Regions from separate parts of the Homo sapiens genome. Here regions 1 and 3 are each linked to region 2. Evidence: fine-mapped QTL for protein levels in blood plasma. A gene starts in region 2. Each other region holds a variant in brackets. All regions are shown on one strand. Distances are between the middles of the regions.

Evidence for each region. PIP is the chance, under the fine-mapping model, that this variant and not a neighbour inherited with it causes the effect. The UK Biobank Pharma Proteomics Project read protein levels with antibody pairs (Olink). The fine-mapping took linkage between variants from a reference panel, not from the people measured, so its PIPs are less certain.
Region 1: its variant is fine-mapped to the plasma level of the DPP10 protein (UK Biobank, PIP above 0.99).
Region 3: its variant is fine-mapped to the plasma level of the DPP10 protein (UK Biobank, PIP above 0.99). The variant lies in the coding sequence of DPP10. If it changes the protein, the assay may bind it differently, which can mimic a change of level.

Annotation. Positions count from the first base shown.
Region 1 is chr2:115,634,302-115,642,301 of GRCh38, reverse strand. All of the region lies in intron 5 of DPP10 (dipeptidyl peptidase like 10), which reads right to left. Among named protein-coding and RNA genes, the nearest start is that of DPP10-AS1, 480 kb to the right of the region's middle. The variant G/C (reference allele first, on the strand shown) is at 3,820.
Region 2 is chr2:114,439,220-114,447,497 of GRCh38, reverse strand. DPP10 (dipeptidyl peptidase like 10) reads right to left here and starts at 4,857. Exons shown (of 26, transcript NM_020868.6): 1 at 4,660-4,857. The coding sequence starts at 4,719.
Region 3 is chr2:115,837,510-115,845,742 of GRCh38, reverse strand. It overlaps DPP10 (dipeptidyl peptidase like 10), which reads right to left. Exons shown (of 26, transcript NM_020868.6): 25 at 4,920-4,993; 26 at 1-3,532. The coding sequence ends at 3,398. Among named protein-coding and RNA genes, the nearest start is that of DPP10-AS1, 680 kb to the right of the region's middle. The variant G/T (reference allele first, on the strand shown) is at 4,922.

The sequences.
Region 1 (8,000 bases), 1.2 Mb before region 2:
AAAGCACTGTCACAGAGACATCCAGAGGAATGTTTGACCAAATATCTGGGCACTGTAGCTAGCAAAACTGACACACGGAATTAACCATCTCGGTGTTTTAAGTTAAATATTATATTGTATGTATGAGGCATTGTCTCATTTATATTTAAATTGCTACCTATTTTGAATATAGAAACCATATTTGGATGGTTAGAGTTACAGGAATGTGTAACATGCAAATAATATATTTATAATTCTCCTATCTAATTACTGAAAATCTTATGACTTGAAAAGCAATGCCCTATCTTTCTGTGGGTGTTGAAGAGGATTTTCTTTCCTTAATAATCGCTTTAAATTCTGCATGAGCTTTCTGCTTAAGGCAGAAGTTGGTTCCAAGTCCAACTACTATGTTCCATTTCATTATTTCAGGCTGTGTGGCTGAAAAGGTTGATACTTGGTAACACTATCGTATATGAAATGACATAAGAAAAGGTTTTGTTTTGAGGCACCAGTATTCCATAATTTCACTGAATCTGGCTGCCTACCAAATGTCAAATATAATTGAATTCCTTCCATTTATCCATTCATTTATTCCACATGCACATTGAACCCAGTATCTGACAGGCATTCTTCTAGGAACTGAGGATATAAGACAAAGACGTTACCCTTATTGAGCTTGCACTTCGGTATAATAGCAGAAAACTAATAATACACATAGAGACTCATAAGTAGATAACTTCAGACAGTGATAAGTACGGTAATAAAAAGACTAAACAGGATACTAGGATAGAGGGAGAGAGTGGGGTTCATTTATGTAGGCTGGTTTAAAGAGGTCTCTCTGAAGAGGTAGTATTGGAAATGAACGGGAAGAGCAGAGACAAAGATGGAAATGAGGTGGGCACATTTGGGGACTAGAAAGCAAGTCTGTGATGCTGAAATGCAGATAACCAAGGAAGACTGTGAGGAGATGACACTGGGAAAACAGGTGAGGACAAATCACGCGGGGCCTTGATGCCGTGGCAAAACTTGTCCTGATTCTCCTCTTATGGCAAGGAAATGACAGGATCTGAACAACTTTGAGTAGACGATGGACTCTTGTGGAAGCAGACAGAACACAGGCAGATCATTTAAGAGACTGTGGTAGTAAACTGGTAGAAATGATGGCTTGGGCTAGGAGAGAGGGTGAAGAGCAGCCGCTGGATTTGGGATATTAGAATCAGTACAATTGTTGCTGTTGCAGGAGTACTTTCCTGTATGTATATCATATAATACATATTATTCTATTTTCAAAGTAATTATTCTATTTTCAAAGCTATTTTCCAGTTCCTATCTTATTAGTCCTAGCAGGAATTCCACAAGATATGGAAAGAATGATAGTTATCTGGTGAACAGATAGCTAACAGAAAAAAACAAAATAAACACTGTGAAATTGAAACTTTGTACTTTATAAATTAATTGTTTGTAACATCGGTGTATAATGATCAGCTCCTGCAGAAACATCTTTCACATAGAAGAATTTCCAAATTCCCAAGGCAACCGGAACCATCCAGGCCAGCTCTAATTGCTAGAAAGGTATTCAATAATCTCGTAAAGCTTCCCAGCAGAACCTAAATTAGAATGCAAGGACTAGGGGTCACATTGCGCTGCCATAGTTCAGCTTATCTTTACAGCTGCGATCTGATTCCACACTTTCTCACTCACACTTATCTATTCCTTCATAAAACCATTAAATAACTTTGCCAATATGAGTTCACCATATTGCTCCCAAAAAAGTAGACAAAAAATATTAGGTTTTACTTATTAACTGTAAAATTAATTCCATATAAACGAGATCAAGATGTCGTTTTTTTTTTTCCTTTCTTCTTTTTTTTTCTTTTTCAGATAAGAAAGGGGAATACTTGGTATGATGAAGACACATAAAGATGGAAGAGGTCATAGTAGTTGTAAGTGCTGGGTCCACAGAGAGGGAGGAGGAGGGGGCAGAAAACAAAGCGAGTGTGAAGTTCTCATTTTTCTTGGGAGTGATTTTTTCAGGACCTGCCTTCCTCCATTACTAGTTCTTTTATTTGGGGGAATGTTGGCCTCCAGGACTTTTCTTAGAAATCCACACAGACTTAGTTTAATAGGAGACCAGTATTACTTTTCCTTCCCTGAGGGGTCTCACTGATGAATGTTTAGCAAGCAAGTCAGTAATTCTGCAAGCCTGAAGCCTTTTACTCCATTCAACACTCAAAGGGTACACTTTGGAGTCAAGTAGATCTAAATTAGAGTATAGGCCCAGTCACTTACTAGGTAGGTGACATGAATAATTTATTTGCCATCTCCAGCCTGAATTTTATCTTCTCTAAAAAAAAAAAAAAAATCTACTGTATGAGTCAGTTAAAAAAAAATCACTTATATATCTGGTCCTCTAATTCAGTCTCTGTTCTCAGTGCTGAAGCAGATCAGTAAGTACCTGACATGACGTTAGCATGAATCTGTCACTCTGCGAATCATATATTTCCCAACTAGACTGCACAGAAGAACCATCTGAGGATTGTATTTAAAATGCAGATTCCTGAATCAAAACCCTAGAGATTCCGGTTCCTAGGTCTGCAAGGAGGTTTCAGAAATCTACATGTTTTAACAAACACCTCAAAAGGTGATGAAATTTATCTCCTGCTCTTTATATTTGGATAACAAAGAAAAAAAAAAACCTGTAATGCATTTGAGTTTCATGTACCTGTGACCTCCTGTCATTTCAGAGGTAAATCTTGCTTCGCTTTGGTTCTTTGCATAAACCTTCTGACCCTCAGCCTCCCATATACTGGCACAACCTATAACACCAGGACAGATGTTTGTCTACTGCACCTGACTTCGTTTCCTGTTACTCCTGTTTGCCACTGTCTTCCTAGTTTGCAGACTGCTTTAGACTCTAATTTCTACTTCCTAATTGTCCTAGGTTATAAGGAAATTGCCAGCTTCTAACTAGATTATCTTGCTTATGTCAGGCAAATATGGAGTATTACATTTCCCAATACCCTTTCCTGATATTTCTACATTAGAATTGGCCAGAAGAGAGACGTTCAGTGAGATATGGAAGGAAGAAGAGAAACAGAAGCTACTACTTTCAGAAGGTTTTCATAAGATAGATGCCTAAGATACGTAGAGGGGTACCCAGCAAGACTCAGTGTATCCTTATTCTCCTCTTCTCTGAATCTAGTCCACCTTTTCAGTAGCTGGCCCTGCTGACTAATGGTGGCCCCAAACCTACCACTGGGCATTTGGCTGTGGACTCACAGTGGTAGTGGCCACCAAAGACAACATCTTCCTACAGACCTTGCTGAAGTGCCCCCTTCAGAGTCCTACTTTGGCAGTAGAGCATGCTTGGCTTCTTGTCTACCTGAGTCAGCGCTTCAGGAAAACCAGCCAGTGATTCTTTCTCTGATCATCCCAGTCCCCCTTAAACACTTTCTCTTCAGTTAGTGCTTCCGTGTTTGTGTAAGGTCTGATTCCTATAATAAACCCCTACCCAACAAGGCTTTAAGTAGTCCTGTTTTGTTGACCAAAATCCCATGGATACATACACTGAATCAACTCCACTCTTAGTCTGGACTCTACACATTTGTTGGTCCAGATAATAGCAAGGATTTCAAGGGAGGACTCAATCATACAATGGAGACAAAATCCATTTTATTTCTTGATGGCCTACCAGGATATTTCAGTGACTTACAGGGAAAATACACAGAATCCTCCAGGCATTTCTATTTTATTCCTAGAAATCAATATAGATATTTTAGTGAAAAAACTTTTACATGACATTTTGACCTAGAATTCAAGATGTGAGAGAGCACAAAAACA[G/C]CTGCTCTTTCCTGAAGGCTTCTGGCTTACAGGCACTTGGATTCGGCCTTAGAGATAATGCCAAGGTTGACTGAAATGTGTAGATGAAAGAGAGATTACCATTGCAAATTGTGTTAACCTTCTTACTGCATGGTTGGCCATCACCAAAATAGTTCAGCCTTCCAGACTGCAATCACATATAATACTAGAGAATTAAAATCACCCACTACCAACCCTTCAAGCACAGTTTTAGTAAATGCACACTTGGAATTCTAAGTAAATTTTGACTGAACAAGAAATGTGCAATCAACTGACGGATTTCAAAGTCCCATGATATTTTCTTCCCACAGAATCAGAAGGCAGTACCCATTAAAATTAGGCAGAACCACAGATGTATATGAAAGTGCATAATTCTAGAGATTTCACAAATCTTATTCAGAGGAAAAGTGATCTTTGCATTCCAAAGATTTTATTAATCCTCAGAGGCTACAGTCTAGAGTGAAGCCTAACATGCAATCAGATCTCTGGCTCTTCTTCTACAGGTTACCCTCTTAGTTTCATGATTCAGTGCTTTCACTCTGAACTTATATTTGAGTTATACCAGTAGAATGTGATACAGGTACAAGGGTGGTACTAGAGGTCACAGACTGGTGATGTCTAGGCTTAATTTTTCTTCACACAAGTTTAGTTTGACTGGGATGGCCACTGTTCTTGTCCATCAGTGAGAGCTGTGTGTAGGCTTCCCCCCAGGTCACAGGGGCCTCCCTCCTAGAGAAAATAGTGATTTAATCAAGTCTTATGCCTATGAAACATGTTCTATTTCGGGGCTCACTCATAAATTCAATAAGAGTTTTAGTATTATCATAAAATAACTTTTATTTATAATTGAGAGCTGCTAAGTTTCTTTGTGGTCTTGGAAATGCTCTCCTAACAATATATTTCATTGGTTTACCTATTCCTCAATCTTTATTCTGTCACTGTTGCCCAATCTTACTCTATCACCTGGATTGTATTTTTCATATTCTTGGAGTCTCAATTCTGTGCCTCCTATTTTCTTATTCTATTTTTCTCCTCTATTTTTAGAAATTTGTACTTTGCATCTATATTTTTTGTGATTATGCTAATTTAAAAACAATTAACTTACCCCTCTTCAAACTACTCAAAAGCCATAGTATACAGTTACTTTACTCCCCTTCCTATTGTGTATATAATTTTTTAATCAGTTTTTTGAAAGATATTTTTCCTCTTCACAAAATTTCAAATTACTTTGGCTTTATATAGTCATAATTTGCTTTGATTTAGTCACATTTTTGCCAATATAATTGCTCATAATTTCTTTTTGTATCATTACTTTCACATCTGGATTTTTTTTTCTGTTTACATTATACCTTTAACATTTATTTTACTGAGTATTTGTTTTTGGCTTATCCCAGATTATCTGTTCAAACATATATTTTACCCTCAGGAAAAGTGTATTGGCTAGGTACAGAATTTTAAGCTATTTCAGCTCACTGAAGTTACATTCCATTGTATTTAGGTTTCTAATGGCTGTTGCTGAGAGGCCTGTTTAAATTGCTTGTCTTCTGTAGACTGCCTTTCTTCTAAAATCTCTTAAGATTCCACTTCCTCTTAGATTCTGCAATTTTATTATGATAAGGGATGTGAGCAGAAGTCTGACTCCCTGTTTAAGTTATTTATCCACCATAATTGGTATGTTTTCACCTTCAGCTATGTGGTAATTTTTTTTTTTACTTTTAAAAACCTCAAACTTGAAGAAAAGTTGAAAGAACAGTACAATAAAGATCTGCATAATCCTCACTTAGAATCACTAATTCTCAACATCTTTCCATATATACTTCATTTCTCTCACTTTTTCTCCTTCTCTCCTTCTCTCACTCTCTCTCTTTTTCTGTCTCTCTCCTTTTCTCTCTCTCTGTCTCCTTCTCTCTTTTAACATAAACATACACACAACTGTTTTGTTGAATGATCCAAAGGAGATTGCACAATTATATTTAAGTATGGGCCTCCCAAGAATATATAACCACAACACCATTACCACACCTGAGAAAAATAAACAGTTTAATAAAATTATACAACATGCAACCTACGTTACATTTCATCAATAGTCACGTAAATGTTCTTTATATCTTTTCGGTCTGTCATGCAACTTCATGCATTGCATTTCACTGTTACGTTACTTTAGTCTTATCTAATTTAAAATAGTTGATGTTTTCCCCTATTATTCATTATTACATATTTTGATTTAATATTAAAGTATTAACTTTTTGAGAAGCCCAGGGTAGCTGTCTCGCAAAGCATACCATCATAGATTTGTCTGTTTTTTGTTTTTTTTTTTTTGCGATTAGACTGAGGTCAACATTTTTGGTAAGAATACCACAAAACTGGTGTAGTGAATCTCCCATTGCATGTCATCAGAAGAAACAAAAAGTTAGGCTTTACACCATCAGTAATGCCAAACTTAGCCACTTGGTTAAGATTGTCACTGTATGATCTTTCCATTTTAAAGGGACATGTTCCACCTTTCAAGTAATATGTGCAATGATGCTTTGAAAACATGAATATTCTATTCTTAAACACTTTTTGCCCAATGATTTTAGAATGTATTGATAATTCTTTCATTAATAAATTATAATATTAGGACAGAAACATCAAGAGTTTTCTAGTCTATCATTCCAGCCATATTTATTATATGATATAAAGCCTAAGAACTAATGTCTAAAATTATGTGCTGACTGGATATCTGGTGAAATCACAGGGCCTCCAATAACTTAACCACAAGCTTCCCTCCCCATTGGGCTTCTAGAGCTAAGATCCTCTCCAAATAACCTTTCTTATCAAATGGAACAGGTGCGGCTACTACTTAATCATTAACTGGTGAGTTTCAGTTGCCTGCAAACTTGAAGAATTATTTAAACAGACTGAACTGAGGTATCCAGGTCTTCTTAATGGGACTGAGTAGGTGGTTGGTGTGACCTACGGAGAGTAAGGAAAAGCAGAGTGGTGCCACAGCCCACCTAGGAGTCAGACAGGGCAAGGGGAGCTACCACCTTCAGCCGAGGGAGGCGGTGAGTGATGGTGCTACTCTGCCTGGGAAACCACACTTTTTCCACAGATCTGTGCAACCCATAGATCAGGAGATCCCCCTTGTCAGCCCACGCCACCAGAGCCTTGGGTCTGAACCGCAGAGTTGTGCAGATTCTCAGCGGCTACTCGGCTGGAGACTGCCTAAGACTACCGAGTTCCCAGAGGGAGGGGTGGCCATCATCACTGTGGCTGCATGCTGCCTAAGATGGCTGAGCTTTCAAGGGGAAGGGCGGCAGCCATCACTGTGGCTGCCTGCTGCATAAGATGACTGAGTTCCGGGAGGAGGGGTGGCCGCCATCACTGCAGCTCCAGTTTGCCATCTTTCCCCTGCAATGCCAGGGAAAATGGATGGTTTGGACCCTGGAGGAATTCCCCATAGTGCAGCACCGTGGCTGTGGCAGAGTGTGGCCAGATTGCCTCTTTAGGCTGGATCCTTACCCACACCATTTCCCTAGGCAAGCCCTCCCTACAAGAATTTCAGAAACTCCAGCCAGGGTTTTAGCAACAGAACTCTAATCTCTCTGGGACTGAGCCCCTAGAAGGAGGGGTGGCCGCAGTCTTCGCAAATCAGTAGACTTAGTCTTTGCCCCTGCTGGCTTTGAGGAATCTGGGCAGTCTAGACAAGTGGGATTCCTCCCAGCACAGTGCACCTCCTCCACCAAGGAGCAGCCAACATGCCTCAGTTAGTGAGTCCCACATCCGGTGCCTCCTGACTGGAGGAGAACCCTCAATTAGGGTTGCCAGACACATTATACAGTAGCATTTCTGTTGGCATCAGGTCAGTGCCCCTCTGGTACAGAGATCCCAGAGGAAAGAAAAGGCAGCCATCTTTACTGTTCTATAGCCTCCACTGGTGACACTTCCAGGTGTGGAAAGGAACCAGGTAAATAGAGTCTGGAGTGGACCCCAAGCAAACTGCAGCACGCCTATGAAAGAAGAGCCTGACTCTTAAAAGAAAAATAAACAAACAGAAAGCAACAATAACAATAACGTCAACAAAAAAGTCCCCACAAAAAAACCCATCCAAAGGTCAGCAGCTTCTGTGATCAAAGCTGGATAAACTCCTGAAGATGAGAAAGAATCAATGAAAAAATGTT
Region 2 (8,278 bases):
TTGCATATTGCAATGACACACAGAGGTAGATTTTTTGTTATTAAACATTCCTTGCATTTCTAAATTTTTGTGGATATAATTTATATATTTAATTATGAAATACCCTTTAAGAATAACTTACAATTCAAGTTCAAGTACTATGTGAAACGCAGGTTTGTCAGTGTCCAGCATTTAGGTTAGGGGTATAGAATTAACAACAAGTGGGCCGGGCGCGGTGGCTCATGCCTGTAATCCCAGCACTTTGGGAGGCTGAGAGGGGTGGATAATGAGGTCAAGAGATCGAGACCATGCTGGCCAATGTGGTGAAACCCCGTCTCTACTAAAAATACAAAAATTAGCCAGGCGTGGTGGCAGGTGCCTGTAGTCCCAGCTACTCGGGAGGCTGAGGCAGGAGAATCACTTGAAACTGGGAGGCGGAGGTTGCAGTGAGCTGAGACTCCGTCTCAAAAAAAAAAAAAAAAAATTTAACAACCAGTGAGATTGCAATGCTGTAGTTCCAAGCCATCTCATCATGCCAATTCATGGCAATGTCACACTCCAAAATACCAATTTGCTAACGAAATTATTTCCTAACCACCATGTTCCAAGCCTACGTATTTAACAATACATACTTGTGATAAGATTTTCATCCTCTTTTAACCCCTTGTCTTCTGTTTCCTATGCCTCATTTGGCTGAGGCTATGGATTAGAAGTAGCAAGGGGGAAAAGTCTTTATTAGCACAATGACTCATCAATATTACAATATAAAAGGCAGTAAAAATCACCATGAAAAAGTTTGCCAGCTCAAGATGTACTCCGAAGACAATGAAAATCTTAAAGATTCGTTTAAGTATAGTTTGTAAAAACTTGCAGCAGGGCTATGTAGGAAGTAACTAGAACTTTTAGACCTTGAGACTCTTTTCTAAATGGAAGTGAAAACCTGGGTGTGAAGGCAGTATTAAAATAAATCAGGCAGGTCTTGTAAAAAGGAAAGAGAAAGAGGAAGACCGGTCACTACATGGGAAGGGTAAAGAAATATTGTGTACTGTATTTCAGAGTTACCATATAAAGTATAATACATATAATTCTTGATCCAGGAATCACCACCCCAGATAAGTTACTCACAATTTATAACTTCAAAAAGGATGAAGGATTTTCTCTACTCATTTTAGACACACGAGGATACTAGACTGATATTCAAATGTGAAAGAAATAAGAAAAAAATCTGCACATTTTAGAGGCAAAATTCTAAGTTTGCAATTCCACTAGCAAAAGAAGTAAACCAAGATCAGAGATTTAGCTGAAAGGTTTAATTTACTTTCAGTGCAGCCAAGAGAAGCCATAATGGTGAAGGAAAAACTCAAGTTTGCTACCCATGGTGGGGGACATTCTTCAGAAATCACGTTTATAATAACGCAAAGATCTGATCTCTATTTAGCATTCCCAGATACTTCCTAAAACTTTCCATTAAACATCTCAGAGTAAAAGATTTTTTTTAAAAGAATGTTGCTACCTTCACAGGAAGATTTGTAATCACATCAGGAAAAGCTTTCTTCCCTTACAAGCTCTGAAATGGAGGAAAGTTTTCAGAGTGAATTGCATTCAGCATTTCACCCAAAGTGATCTGAGAACACACTTGGCACCCCTATTTGACTCCCTTTTCTCTCCCTTACTGGTTTTGACGATAGGAACATACCTGCCAAAGTATGCCAGGAAAAGTGTGTCAGTAACTGTCTGAGCTAAAGAATGGCCAGAACGACCAAAGCAAGTGTCAAGCAACCTGAATACTCTTGATCATCTTGTTCCATTATAACTTCTCCCAATTTCCTCTTTTCCAACTCTGACACATCATGGCCACAAACAGCCTTCACTGGCAACAATTGCTGAATTTTACCCACTATAGACTTCATCACTTCTTGAACTTCAAGTGGAGGAGAACACACACACACACACACACACACACACACACACACACACACACACAGAGCTGTTTTTCCTCCTCCTGCACACTTTTGGCCTTTACAGCTATTTTAGCAATGCATTTCACTTTTGTTCATTCCCATTGCATTCTTTTTAGCCGTAGTTTAACTGTTGAGAGAAGAAACAGTCAGCATTTACTATACTGATGGGGGAAAAGTTCTCTAGAGGTTATTACACTGAGCTTTGGGAGAAAAGTCTCTAGAGGTTTTTGAATTTCTAAAATGGAGCAATATGCAAGTTATTTATTTCCAGATCCTCAAAGTGGGTTATCATTACCTGCAGGCCAACCAGATTCCATGAGGGAGGGTTACTTAAAATTATCTGATAGTAAATTGATAGTAAATTTAAGAGTGAGGAATAAAATTAACTTTAAACAACCATGCTTGAAACTAAAATTCTAATAGTTCAAAGAGTATTTTGAGCTCCAATGTCCCACAGCTTCCCAAAACCCTCTCATCTTAGAGTTTTTCTTTAGATTGTTATTGCATTTTGTTCATAGGCTAATGCATTACCTAAATATAGATAGCCATTTTTAGTATAAATTCAAAAAGCCATAAATGTTTCATAATTGAGCACATAATTTGAACTAAGAGAGATTTTCCACTCATCCCTTTTCACTATTGCAAATTGCAAAATACTCAAGTAATTACTCCCTTAATAGTTCAGTGCTTGCGACTATATATATTTTATGAACATCACAAGCATTTTTTTGCTCCCCAGAGCAATATTGGGAATGGGGTGCACAAAAGAATTTAACTTGTACAATTAACCAAATTACCCAGAGCTTTGATTCAAGATTCCTTCATTAAGCCATTAATATAATACATTGTTAAGTGGTGGGTTGTCCAATTTTTATGATACTTTTCATTTCAACTCAATGGCTGCAGTTAGAAGGAAAAAACAGCATCTGCAAGATCAGCAAGATGATGTAAAACCTCTACACTAGAAACATTTTTTTTTCTGTTCCACAGTTTGTTTGTGGGCAGCCAATGCCAGAGCACTAATAAAGGAAGTGATTTGAAGTCTCTGAAAGTAGTAGTCATTTATGCTTACTCAATAAAGAAAAGGGAAAATAAATGCTTGATTCCTGTGACCTCAGACTCTTAAACAGAAAGCCACTGGTTTTGTTATAGCATTCTAGACATACTTAGCAGTAGGCAGCCAGTTTGTAACTCTATCCCACTTTAGGCTTCAATACATATTTCCCACTAGAGCTTATATATCCCAATGTAGAGTGTCATGTATTTACTATTTTGGCTTTGTTCAGTGATATGCTTAGATAATTGATGTATGTGGGAAACTGATACACAGAGGAAAACTATACCAAAAGCTCAACATTTTTTATTTCTAAACTTAGATACAGCACAGAAAATCTAATGCTGAAAAAGATTCTCATATCTGTTATTAGAGGTGGTGTAAATTATCTGAATATGAGTTCTGCATGATTTCAGTTAACTCCCTATGTTTATGTATGATGGGAATCTAATTATGCATCATTTAATATACCCTGGAAACCCCATTGCTTTTAAAAGTCACTGCTAATAAATAGAGGAACATGTTTAGTTTATGGTTTATCTATCACTGAAACACTCTGGCAAACGGTAGGTAAATTCATGAAGAAGAGACATTGTTGAAAATTATATTCCTTTTGTAATTACAGTCTATGCAATATTATTAAAGGCCTGAGACATAAACCAAAACATAATATAAATCATAAAAAGTCAGGCTTATCAGGAATAGTAGCAAAAGGTATGCACTTGTATGTTAATGAGAGATTGCAGTAACTAAAGATGCCCTGTCAGGATATCACGTTTTTTGTTTTAGTTTTTTTTTTTTTTTCATAAAAGAGTTTCAGACGAATCCATCACTTTCCCTCAAGATGCAAAATATCCACATAGATAATAATACAATTCAAGTAAATGGCAAAATATAGTAAACTTTGATTGGAAGTCTGGTCGTTTATAAGCCTTCTTGGAAATAAGAGCATCCCGAATAAAAACAAAGAGAATGGTATAAGCATGACTTGAAACTAAAACAGAAGAGTGAAATTGTGAGTTTGTTCTTTACCTTTAACCATGTGCTGTCAGAAAAGCCTCAAATTTTAAACAACACCTGCATTGAAGAGTGTCTCCAATCATCTCACTGGTTTTGAGTTACATGGTGATATAAATAAAGACATGTGATTTTATACTCTCTCTCTAGTCTTTCATCCTCTCTCACTATAATCACTTTAGTATAACCACCAGTTCAATGCTCACAATGAAGGATGAGCTTTTTTTAAAAAAGGATAAGAGATCCAAAATTCATATGACAATGAAATCCTGTTATCAGATTTGTAGTCAATTTGATGCTATTTATTTCTAGCAGTTTGCAAATTCTTCCCCAGTTCTATCAAGAAAATTGGCATGGACTGGAAACTCTTCTAGACACTCACAAAACTTTCTTCTGGAAATATACCTCTGATAGATTCTCAGTAAAAAAAAAAAAAGTCATGAAGATGAAAGAAGTGTTCAGTGGAAACTATTCTTTCCAGTCTACACACACATGCAGAGCCAAATGCTTTATTGTGACTCAACCTTCAATTCAAACTCAAATCAAGTAGGTATGTCCACTGTCAGTACCCCGATATATCAATGCCCATGTGTTAGGTAGATGAATGAAGACACATGTGCAGAAGCAGAGGGAAAAACCAGATCCTACCTTGATTGTTTTTGAGGGTTGACACTTGATGTGATGGGACACGCTGGCAGTTTGGTTCATGTTTCAGGACCCTGGACAGTGCACAATCCCAGGCGGAGTTCCAGAATGAACTAGAGATCAAGTCTCCTCTATTGGACTTCAGTAGGGGCTGCTGCTGTTGCTGCTGCCGCTGCTACTGCTGTTGCTTCTGCTGCTTCTGTTTCTGCTGCTTCCTCACTCCGGAGGCTGAAACGCTATCAGATTGGAGGAATCTGTATCTCACTTAGCCCTAAATAGAGCATTTACTTGGTTCATCAGTCTCAAAGCTCTTGGCAATATGCAATAGAAAGCCAAAAACGGTTTAAATTCACTTGCAGTGTACCTTTTCAGTATGGAGATGTGACAGCTCCACAGTACAGCCAATGATCCTGGCTCTCATTCCCCTTTCAAAGGGACGAAAACCAGAAAACATACAGAGATCAATTGCAGTCCTGCAGTTTAAAGGGGCACTCTCAACTCCTCTGTCTCTCCAGATTATAGTTTTTCCAGTGCAAAATATTTCTCTCTCTCTCTCTCCCTCTCCCCACCCCTAACCCAGTTTAAAAAAAAATCATAACATCCTCATTCTGTTACTAAATTTTATTCCTTCCTGGGTACTTCTTGCAATCAAAACACAAGTAAATGCTGTGGAAAAAAAAAAAAAAAGACTGTTGGCAGTTTCAGAATTTGGGGGTTTTATATCTATAGGTTGAAGGACTGATATTCCCTATGGATATTTTTAAAATTTAGCCATAACAGCCAGCCAAGAGACTGTCCTTTCTGTAAGGTGGCAGAAAGCTTAAGGTATATTTAAAAAGTTTTCAAATACAATAGTTATTGTAGTTTTTGGATATCGCACCAAAGCTAGACAATGTTTTTATTTTCAACCTTTATTTTTGACCATTGCTTTCCTTGAAGCCGTATTTTTTGAATGCCTGGGACAAACTGGTAGTTAGCTCATGCCAGTCTAACTCCCCAAATGGTCACCTCTCTGTCCCTAATGTCATTTTAGGCAAAATAAATTATAAATATTTGTAAATTAAGTTTTCCGAGTCACCAGTCCCCATTGTCACATCAACACTAACTAGAATAAATATATCCTGGTTGGAAATAAGATCCAGTAGTCTTGAGTAAATGCAGGACACTCTTTTCCAACTTTTGTTGCAAAGTGTTTGATGTTGAAAACCAACAGTATTTATTCATCAGAAATGTATCCTACTAATGAAATGCTAGGTTTATAAGATTGAACTAACGAACTACATTCAGGAGGCTTTTATGAACAGCCTAAAATATTACAGATAAACTTTAATGTGAAATGAAATAAATTAATGTTTGGTGAAATTAATTTATACATAATTATAAACACATATTTTCTCTTGTAAAACAGAAAAGGGATCTAAACATTCTGACAAAGTAGTCTGCACATGTTTGAGGATGGCTAAGTTTCAGAAGGTTATAGTTCTGAGTAGCAAAGTGGAGGTAAGGATGTGACAGAAGTAAGATCAGACTGTTTGCAGCCACAAAAGTTAATGGCAAGAGTATTGGAGAAATCAGGAGAATCATGGGAAAAGAGATGGAGCCAATAAGAACCAGGCAAAAGGCTGTGTGCAAGAATCTGGTGTAGCAATATCCAGGCATCATATTGAGCACAACCAGAGGCAGCCATAGGGCCAACAAATCTCATGATTTGAAGTTTACAATTCTAAATCACAAATGTGACTGGAATTTGTGGCTTATCTTGTATTTTGCTTGAATAGCATTGCTTTGAATAATTCATAAATCACAAAAAGAGTATATTAAAAATGTTTAAACATTTTGTATTCAACAATAATGAAAACAACACAGAAAATTTGCAGTATGCAGCTAAATCAATATTTAAAGGAAAATGTATATAATTAAGTACCTATACCAGAAATGCAGAAAAGCATAAAATTAATAATTAATAAGCTAATTATTCATATCAAAGAGTTGGAAAAAGAATGGCAAAATAAACTCAAATAAATTATAGGGGGGAAACAATAAAGAGAAGAGAAGAAAGTAATGAAGTAAAAAACATACAAAATACTCAATGAAAAAACCTATGAACATTTCATCAGGTGGTTTACAGTTTGATAATCTCTGAATAAATGAATGTTCTATACCAGTAGAATTGGCTTAATTCCTTTCTTAGATAGCACTTTGTACTAGGTATCTAAGAAACTTCCAAACTAAATTATCTGGGGAGCCCAGGGAGGGAGAGCAGTCCAAGAGTTCAGAGTATCCCATCCCCATCAAAGAACTGTACAGGATGGAAGGAGCCACTAGTACTTCAAGGAACCCTCTCCAGGCACATTGATAGAGACAGCATTTATATGCCTACCACAAAGAGGGTATGAGTTGCTGGATTTCTACAACTATAATCACATGAGACTTCACCCCTTTTCTACAATTTTTCAAAAAGGTTCTACCCCCACCTGGATGGCAGCAGGATCCAAGAAAGATATTGACACTACCATTTATAGGTAGGTGGCCAGAATCCACCTAAAATCTTTTCCCAAAGTTGCATTTTGAAAATAGAGAAAAATCACAGTAAGAGAAAAGAGTGCCTCGTATACACCATATGCTCCCTTTCCAGGCTCCACATTATATCAAACTCCAAGTTCCAAAGAAAAATCAAGTGTTCAGAGCAAAACATATGACCCAAATCTCATTTTGGATTTTGTTTTCCCTTTCTGTTATATTATCATTTCATGAATCAAGGAAATGAAAACCATAGTAATTTTTAAACATTTCTATTTAAAACATGTATAAATTGTTCATTATTTTGTAAAATCTGCTGTATCTTAATGTAGCCAATTGGAATGTACAACTAGAAGAAAATAGAGACCAAAGAAATTTAGACAAGTGCTAGAGAATTACAAATACCGCTTAATAAGGATAATTCATATACATTTCTTCTAATTGGGATATATTGGGCTCAATATGTTTAGAATGAAAACAGCTGCAAAATTGCATCACGGTTTGTCACATGGAAGTAGTTTTTTTTAAGGTTTAGATCTGCTGAAGAAACACTATACAGTAAATCATACTGAACTAGAAAATTTAGACAATTTAGTCCAAAGGACCAATTTCAAATGTAATCAACACTTATGATAACCGTATAAAAATATGTTGTTGTCAAACAGTTTGGGAAAAGTTAGGAGTGAGTCCCTTCCACCTTTCCCACAAAAAAAATTAAGATGGCTAACGCTTTCAGAAAATATAACCCACGATGTTCCTTGACCAGCTATCATTTGATCCGGGAAATAGAAATTTAGGATGGGGTTAATGAAAATATCCCATTAGAAAAAAAAAAAAGTCAAAGTGTCAGATGGATTCTACTACCAATTTCCGTCTCTTTGTTTCAAGTCCCATCTGCCCAAGCCCTAACTAGCTGGTCACAGTGATGACCTACAGATTGCAAAGTTAGGCAAGCCCAGGCCTCTAGTCAATAAGAATGGTATCTGAAAGGATATTGGGCTGTTTCCCTGATTTTTTTGAAATCTACTGTAGAAAATTCAAATCCCTCCATGACCATTGAGGGATCATCTCCTCATCTTAACACCTATCATCTGTGTTCTGG
Region 3 (8,233 bases), 1.4 Mb before region 2:
CCACTGATTTATTCTTATTTTATTTCTCCTCCTGTAATATTCACAGTGATAATTTCTTGTGGAGGGGAAAAATAGTTTCCAGAAAGCAGAGTCTAAGACAACAGCTAGCACACCTGCCGTTTATTTTGGAAAGTGATCATAGGGAATAGGAGTAGGGAGCTTAAAAGAGTGAAATGGGGAAGAGGAAAATAGAAGGGTATGCAGCTATGGGCTTCTGCGGCCCACAGAGTCTTCCATGGACCATGTAGAATATCTGAGGGAAAGATCAGTTACCTGCTACAGTCTTTCATTAATTGTGTTTTAGCGGGTTAGTAACACCTTCACATCGGTTTGCAGCATGTAAGCGATTTGTCTCTTGGTTCTACCAAGTAGCCAAAATTAGTATCAGAGAATCCCCAGAACAGAAAGTGAAAGTGAGCAGAGCTGAGAGGCCAGATTGTATCCATACAGTGTTGGTGGCCGCAGGATGTGAAGGTGGTCAGAGAACTTGAGGAGGGACACAAGTGGTATTTCATATATAACTCCTCATAGAAGCTATGTGCTGTCAGTGATTCTAGAGACTTGAAAGCAATTCAGTCCAAGGTACTTCTGTCTCCAAGCCCAACATTTGAAGGACAATGGCTTAAGTAATTCTCTAATATGGTAAAGCCCAATGTCTAAGTCACCTCATTGTAATAGATCTACAACAGACATCTGTAAGATCCCCAATAGTGATTTTTATGCTAAACACCCAATTAAAAAAAGGCACATTTTCAGAGTGAAGTGAGATCCATCTTTTGAAGAGTGATTCCTTCCTTTAGTTCTGTCAGGAAACTCAAAGAGATGAGAATAGCCTGCTTAGTCTCTGAGTATTTGGAGATCTTAATGAAGGCAATGAAAGTGAACAAACACTTTTCTCTTTCAAAAGAGTTTCAAGAGATTGTTTATCTCTGTGGATGATTTAATACTGCTTACCTATTTAATTAAAGAATTCAATATATTGATTTTTTTCTTTAACATTAAGGGAATAATAACACTTGGAAAGCATGCTATTGGAGTCCTAGGAAAATCTAGCAATGCATAAATATGTATGAAATAGTGGGATTATGACCAAGGGTACATGTATACAGGGGAAAATCCAATCACATGATTCCTTTAATAGTTGGTGACTATGTGTTGGTGAGCATTTCCTTTACTGAAAATGACCCTGTCATTAAAACTCAAAGAATCGCAGGGATTAACATTTTCTACCTTCCTACTAAGCAATATGCTTTCACTTGAGGTCTCTTTAGTGTTTAAGGGGAAAACGGGTTCCAGAAAAATGTCTTTCACATTAGAAACTGTATTAAATTAATTGAAAAATAGATAAACATTGATAATAATAATAAAACAAGAGAAATGATGACAGTAAAAGGCAAATACTTTTTAAATGATACTCAAATAGACATTCAATAAAACCACACCTTTCAGACAACATAATCATTTGCATCATAAAAAACTCTAGTGGTTCAAATTTAAAATATTGGTTAAAAAGCTTCAGTTGGATTTCAAATTAGCCTAAAAAGAAATTTCCATCTTAATAAAATAGGCAAAACTTTCCTTTTAAAATTACAACTTATTTTGTTAAAAAATGTGTTCACTATTCTTGAAAAAGACCTAAAATGGATCTTTCAGAAGAGAAAGCCTCTCCTATTTTAAATTGAACCCAGTGGAGCATGGAAGACACGATTCCAAAGCATCCAGGGAAAAAGTTGAATACCAAATCCATGATTCACATGTACTCAAATACCCAGAATTTGGGGTTGATCCTTCAACAAAACAGGAGGGTGACTGAGTGATTCCTTGATATTTTAAAGTTTCCTCCTGATGCCATAAGTTATGATAATTCAGTCTGTCCTAAGGACTTTTTTAAAACCACAAAAATGCAGTATCCTGCCTAGATTTATCTGAACTTCTAAGCTTATTACAGACTTTTAGATATCTTCTGGAAGATCCCTTAAGTGAAGTGAGAAGATATTCTGACTTTAGTCACCAAAGTTAAATGTTCTCATCACTTAAATTGACTTCATACAGTCAGGTTTATTTTATGCTCTCAGTTACTTACTACTGCAAGTCAACACAGCACAGGAATTGATGCATTTTGTGCCTTCAATTCAAAGTAAATAGCAAACACTGCTGTCTGTGAACTTTTTGGCCAATGAATAAAAAATATTTCATTTCTAATTCTCACCAGAAGAATTGAAATTAAACAGTAACAGATGAATTGGGCAGGCATGGAATACTAAATAGAAACTGGCAAATGAAATAATCCAGCTATTTGCTTTTACGATGAAAATGAGAATTGATTCTGCACTGAGAGAAAGAAGTAAAAGGACCAAGAGTTTTGAAAAAAGCCTTCTCCACCAAAAGAGCAAAATAGCACTCAGTGGCATTGCATTGTTAACAAAATTTCTTTATCAGAAACTATAATTTAATATTTAAGTATCTAATTTACATGTGACAAGGTATCATATTCAAAAAATTAAATGCAACTGGAAAACTATTAACCACTAAAAACAATACCAAACACAACCCAAACATTTATAGGAAAGCAATAGCTAGAATTTGAATTGGAAAAAATGTTTCATCATATTTGGCTCATTAAACAAAGCATCCATTATAGCTTGGAAAAGAGCATCTCTTCTAATTCATCAAACGTTTACTCTTTATAGCATGAATAACATTTAAAGATAGTTTCATTAACTGTATATGCACACTTGTGTATATATATTGTGAGACATACACTCGTGTGTTCATTTAAAGATATTGTATCTACTGATAACTGGCTGAACTTTGGAAGGTGCTGAAATCCACATTTCTATATGTCCTTTGACCCATTTAATAATGTCTTTTTAAAAACAGAAATTACATAAAATACTCTGTTTTTTATTAACTGAATATTTTCTTAAGCATAATAATAGACAATGAAAGAATTGCACTTATTATAAAGGTACAGTAAAGTGTTAGATTGCAGCTCAGCCATGAAAGATCAGGGACTGTAGGACAGATGATAGATTGTGCATTATATGCAAAGATGATGGTGGCCAGTGAAATTAAAATGAGAGCAACTAGTTACAGAACAAACAGGGGGATAACAGAAGAAAACATGCACTACTCCTACTTTAATGCAAAACTAATTTCTCCCAGGAAACCAACCCTTTGACCTCTCTCATACAAAGAAACGGGTTCTGCACCCCTAGCAACACAGTAGACTTGGACTTGTGTATTCAAATGCTAGTTCACTGTCTCTGAGCGTGCTGCTCCAGTGACATCTCCGTAAGCTGCCCTTGACATTCTGGAGCAACTACAATATTACAGTCTCTTTGTCAGGTTTCATTGAGCCTCAATATTCCCTTCAGTTCTGTATAAATACAGTCCATTATTCATCTTCTTCTGGTTCCTGTGGTAGCACAGATATTTCTTCCTTCAAACAATCACTGAAGAATTTGAGGATTGTGCTGTAGAGATGATACTTGCTCTTCTCAGATACGTTATGACCTTCATCTGGGTAGACCTAAGATATTGAGGAGAAAGAAGATTTCAAATTATCCAAGAAGCTATTGTCTCTCGCATTCATTTTCTGAGCCCTAACGTCATGGAAACTTTGAGTAATAATATCTGACCAAAATCAAACCTAATTCTACTCTAAGTTATTCATGCTAAACTTTTAAAACAATTGTAATCATGTCAATTAATATTTGGTATTTAAATTAGAATATGTTGGCCATAAAAGGTAGACTTTTTCATGTTTATGTTGACTGAGATGGACTAACCTTGCCCTCAGCTTGACTAAACTTTGGACAGTTTCTTTTTGACTAAAGGCCCTTGGCCTCTCCTCCCCTTTTTAGGAGTATTTAGTTTAGAAAACTTTCCAGCTCTTTATTTAAAGAGCATTGAGTTCAGTCTTTGTCTCCTTTGCAGTAGTTTTTCATAAGGTCTTCCTTGCCTCTTTAACATTGTCTGGTGCAATTATTTACTTTGACAATTCCCTTTCCAATGTAAACAAAATTGTTACTGTTTCTAAAATACAAATAAAAAATACAAATATTATCCCATTAATTCCTGAGTACAAAGGTTTAAATGGCGCCTCATTGCCCTTTGAATAAAACTCCATACTCCTCAACATTGCTTATGGAATGACCTGACATTTGTTTATCTGTATAGCTTCATATTTCATTATCCTAAACGTGGTAGTTTGTGTTTTAGACAGGTTGAGCAACTTTTGGTTCTTCTGAATGCTGAGAAATTTAAATGACTTTACTTTTTCCTTCTATGACTCTTATATCAGACTGGAACCTCCTTGACAGTGTAATGTATGTCTTGTTACTCATAGAGCAGAGTGACCACTGTAATGTCCTTGATAAATATATATTAAATGTATGAATGCACAGACATAAATGGTAGTGCAAATGGCCTTTTATCCTCTCTTCTTTTCTTGTAATATTTCCCCAAACATTTTTTATCCACTATTTATTATGAGAATTATAAATTATCATATTTAAAAATAAATTAATAATAAACTCTCATATTTAATAATAAAGACAAAGGAACAAGACAAAAGGAACAAGAAAAGGAAGAAAGGAACAACAAAAGGAAGAAAAGATAAAAGGAACAAGAAGGGAAGTAGAAACTTGTTACTTTTAAAAGAATTCAATATTTGGGATATGAATAAGTCTGAGAGGAAAATGACAATTTAGAAAGGATTCATGCAATTCACTTGTAAAGCATGAGTTCATCCACATTCTCGGTGTAATCAGGAACAGAGAACACAATCTTTGGTAACTAAAAAACATATTAAAAAATAATAGTAGGGAGAATGGAATAATAGAGAAGCTGTGTTGCGTATCTCACAAGTGAAAAAACACAGCAGGAAAACACGTTCTTCTAAGAAAGTAGCTTACCT[G/T]CATAGTATAATTCACTCCAGCTTTTATTAGGTGCTTGATTAATTCTGCTGAGTGTTGGAAATGAACTTTTGCTGCAAGAAATCAAATTATGATATCTGAAGAAACACACTGCTTGTATGAGAACTTTTTCATATTATTTTTCAAAGAGATTCAGTGTTTTATTTTACATACATTGCACATTTAAAAGACTTATATCTGGCTGGGCACGGTGGCTCACGCCTGTAATCTCAGCACTTTGGGAGGCCGAGGTGGGCCGATCACAAGGTCAGGAGATCGAGACCATCCTGGCTAACTCGGTGAAATCCCATCTCCATTAAAAAATATAAAAAATTAGCCGGTGTGGTGGCGGGCACCTGTAGTCCCAGCTACTCGAGAGGCTGAGGCAGGAGAATGGCGTGAACCCGGGAGTGGGGAGCTTGCAGTGAGCAGAGATCGTGCCACTACAGTCCAGCCTGGGCGACAGAGCAAGACTCCGTCTCAAAAAAAAAAAAAAAAAAAAAACCAAAAAACCTTATATCTGGCTTTAGGTAGAAAGCTGGTAAATACAAATACAATGGTAAAACTTTGAGCTTCACTCTATTAAACAAAAAAGCAAAACAGTAGCTACAACTAAGTCCTACTTACTCTACAGAATGGTGTTTATATTTACTTTACTGGATAGTATTTATTATTCCTAATGGTACACATATTTTTATAAATTTTATAAAATTTATAAAAAATTTTAATATGGCAAATGTCTTTTCTGGATATTAATACAGGAAACCAGCTATCTATTTCATTTTGAAGATTACTAGGGCACAGTCTCAGTTGGATACTGGCATTCTGCTTTATTATTCAAAATTAGAAAAGAATACCCCATACTGAGAAAATAGAATACACATCTCATTATACAAGGACTAACTATTTAATATAGAGCATACTGGTTACTCTTGCTTTATCTTCCTTCTGCCAGAACCTAAGATCCAAGATTCTGAAGTAAGCAGCCCAATAGCCATGGGTTTGGTAGCTATGAAGATTTGGTGCAGTCACTCAAATCTCTTTCTGCAGAAGTTGGCTCACATTCTGTCTAGGGTGTTCATTCCTGTAGTTTGTGTATCTTCAGATTTCTGTAACTCATGTTTAAGCTGCCTTTTTTTTTTTTTTTTTTGAGATGGAGTCTTGCTCTGTTGCCCAGGCTGGAGTGCAGTGGTACGATCTCGGCTCACTGCAACCTCTGCCTCCCAGGTTCAAACAGTTCTCCTGCCTCAGCCTCCTGAGTAGCTGGGATTATAGGCGTGCACCACCATGCCCAGCTAATTTTTGTATTTCTAGTAGAGACGGGGTTTCACCATGTTGGTCAGGCTGGTCTCAAACTCCTGACCTCGTGAGCTGCCTGCCTCGGTCTCCCAAAGTGCTGGGACTACAGGTGTGAGCCACCGCGCCCAGCCTAAGCTAACATTTTTAATTGTCGTTGCAAAATTAGGGCAGCCTTATCAATAGTTTAAGCCTCTTTAATGCTCTAACTCTAGAATGCTGAATAATCAGACCACACAGCAGAGAATGTAAAATGGCAAACAATCATTTAAACCTATTAAAAAACTAGATAGTCAAGATCTTTTTCAACATCTTCCTATGGCACTTAATGGGAAAATGACCTTGTCATTGCTACATAAGTACAAACTGCTCTATAAATGTAAGCTTCTAGAAATGCTAATTAATAAGGTCAATGACAGAGGTAATGTGATCCCTTATTTGTCTGCATGGAGACAGCTGAAAATAAATGTGCAAAAGGATTTTTCCAATTGGATTTTTTTTCTGCTTAGTTTCTAATGCAAAGTCCATTGATATTTGTTGCTATTTGTCTGTTTACTATAGCTAAAAGGGAACATTACAGGTTTGACTGGGTGATTGAATTCATTTGCTGGTAATTTTTGAAGATAATATTAATAGTAGTGGTGTTACAGTGTCATGACTGAGCACCTATAATTCACCAGGCCCGTATGGGTTGTGTGGTATGTGTATGTGTGTGCCTGTGTGTGTGTGCCTATGTGTGTGTGTGCTCACACACATTCACAGGTGCATTTCCTCTCCAGGGACCAGGGCTGAACCTCTGCTTGTATTTTATTAGATGGGTGAAGCGCCAGGCCTGTGACTGAGTGAGTCAGATAGAACAATGATTTACCTTTATAGCTACAACATATTGACAGAGAAATTTGAAATAGCACTAATATATTAGTCCAGCATGATGGGTAGACATACAATAATTTAACCTTGAATATAATTTATTCATATGAATAAGGCTTCAGGGCACAGTGAATAAAAGGCTCAATACATGGATTCAAATCTCCTTCCTACTAATCAATTGTGTCTACTCTTTTAAGGAAGTTATATCATTTCCTAATATTTATTTTCCCAATCTGTTAAATGAAAGTAATAACATCTACTATTCCGTGTTTGCAAGAAGTACAAATAAGATAATATTAAATGCTTTTAGCACATTTTCTGACATACAATGAGTACATAATTGCTATTTATTTTTATTACTGTTGATATATATGTAAGGTCTTAATACCTTAGAACAACATCCAAATGTCCCTCAAAATTTTTACGCTCTCTTTCATCATGTTTCACCCAACACTGGTACTGTATCATCTACCTCTTTCTTTAATAGACTATTAATACTATAATTGCTTTACATTTTCAGAACAGTTGCAGAGATAGTACAGAGTTCCTGGATACCCGTCCTCCAGTTTCCCCATTGTTAACATCTTATATTATTATATACTTTGTCACAAATAGAAACTAAGACTCATATACTACCACTAACTAAACCCACTTTATTTGGGGTGCACTAGTTTTTCTTGTTGGTGTTCTTATTGTTGTTTTCCTGTGTACCCTTTCTGTTCCAGGGTTCCATTCAGAATCCCACATTATATTTAGACATCATGTCTTTTAAACTTCCTCTGGTCTATGAGAGTTTCTTAGACTTTTTTTTTTTTTGATTACCCCAACAGTTCTGAGGGGTGCTGGCTGGATATCTGATAGAATTTTCCTCATTTGGATCTGCCTGATGGTTTTCTCATGGTTAGACTGGTGTTATGTATGGGCTTGGAGTACTAAACCATGGAGGTAAAGTGCCATCCCCACTACATCATATCAAGGGCATTTAATAACAGTAATAACATGACTTGTCACTGTTGATGTGATGTTTGTCAAATTTCTCCACTGTAAAGTTCCTCTTTCTCTCTTTTTCCATATAGTACCCTTGAAGCAAATCATTCAGTGGAACCCACCCTAAAGAGGAAGAAGTTAAGTTCAAGATTTAGGAAATA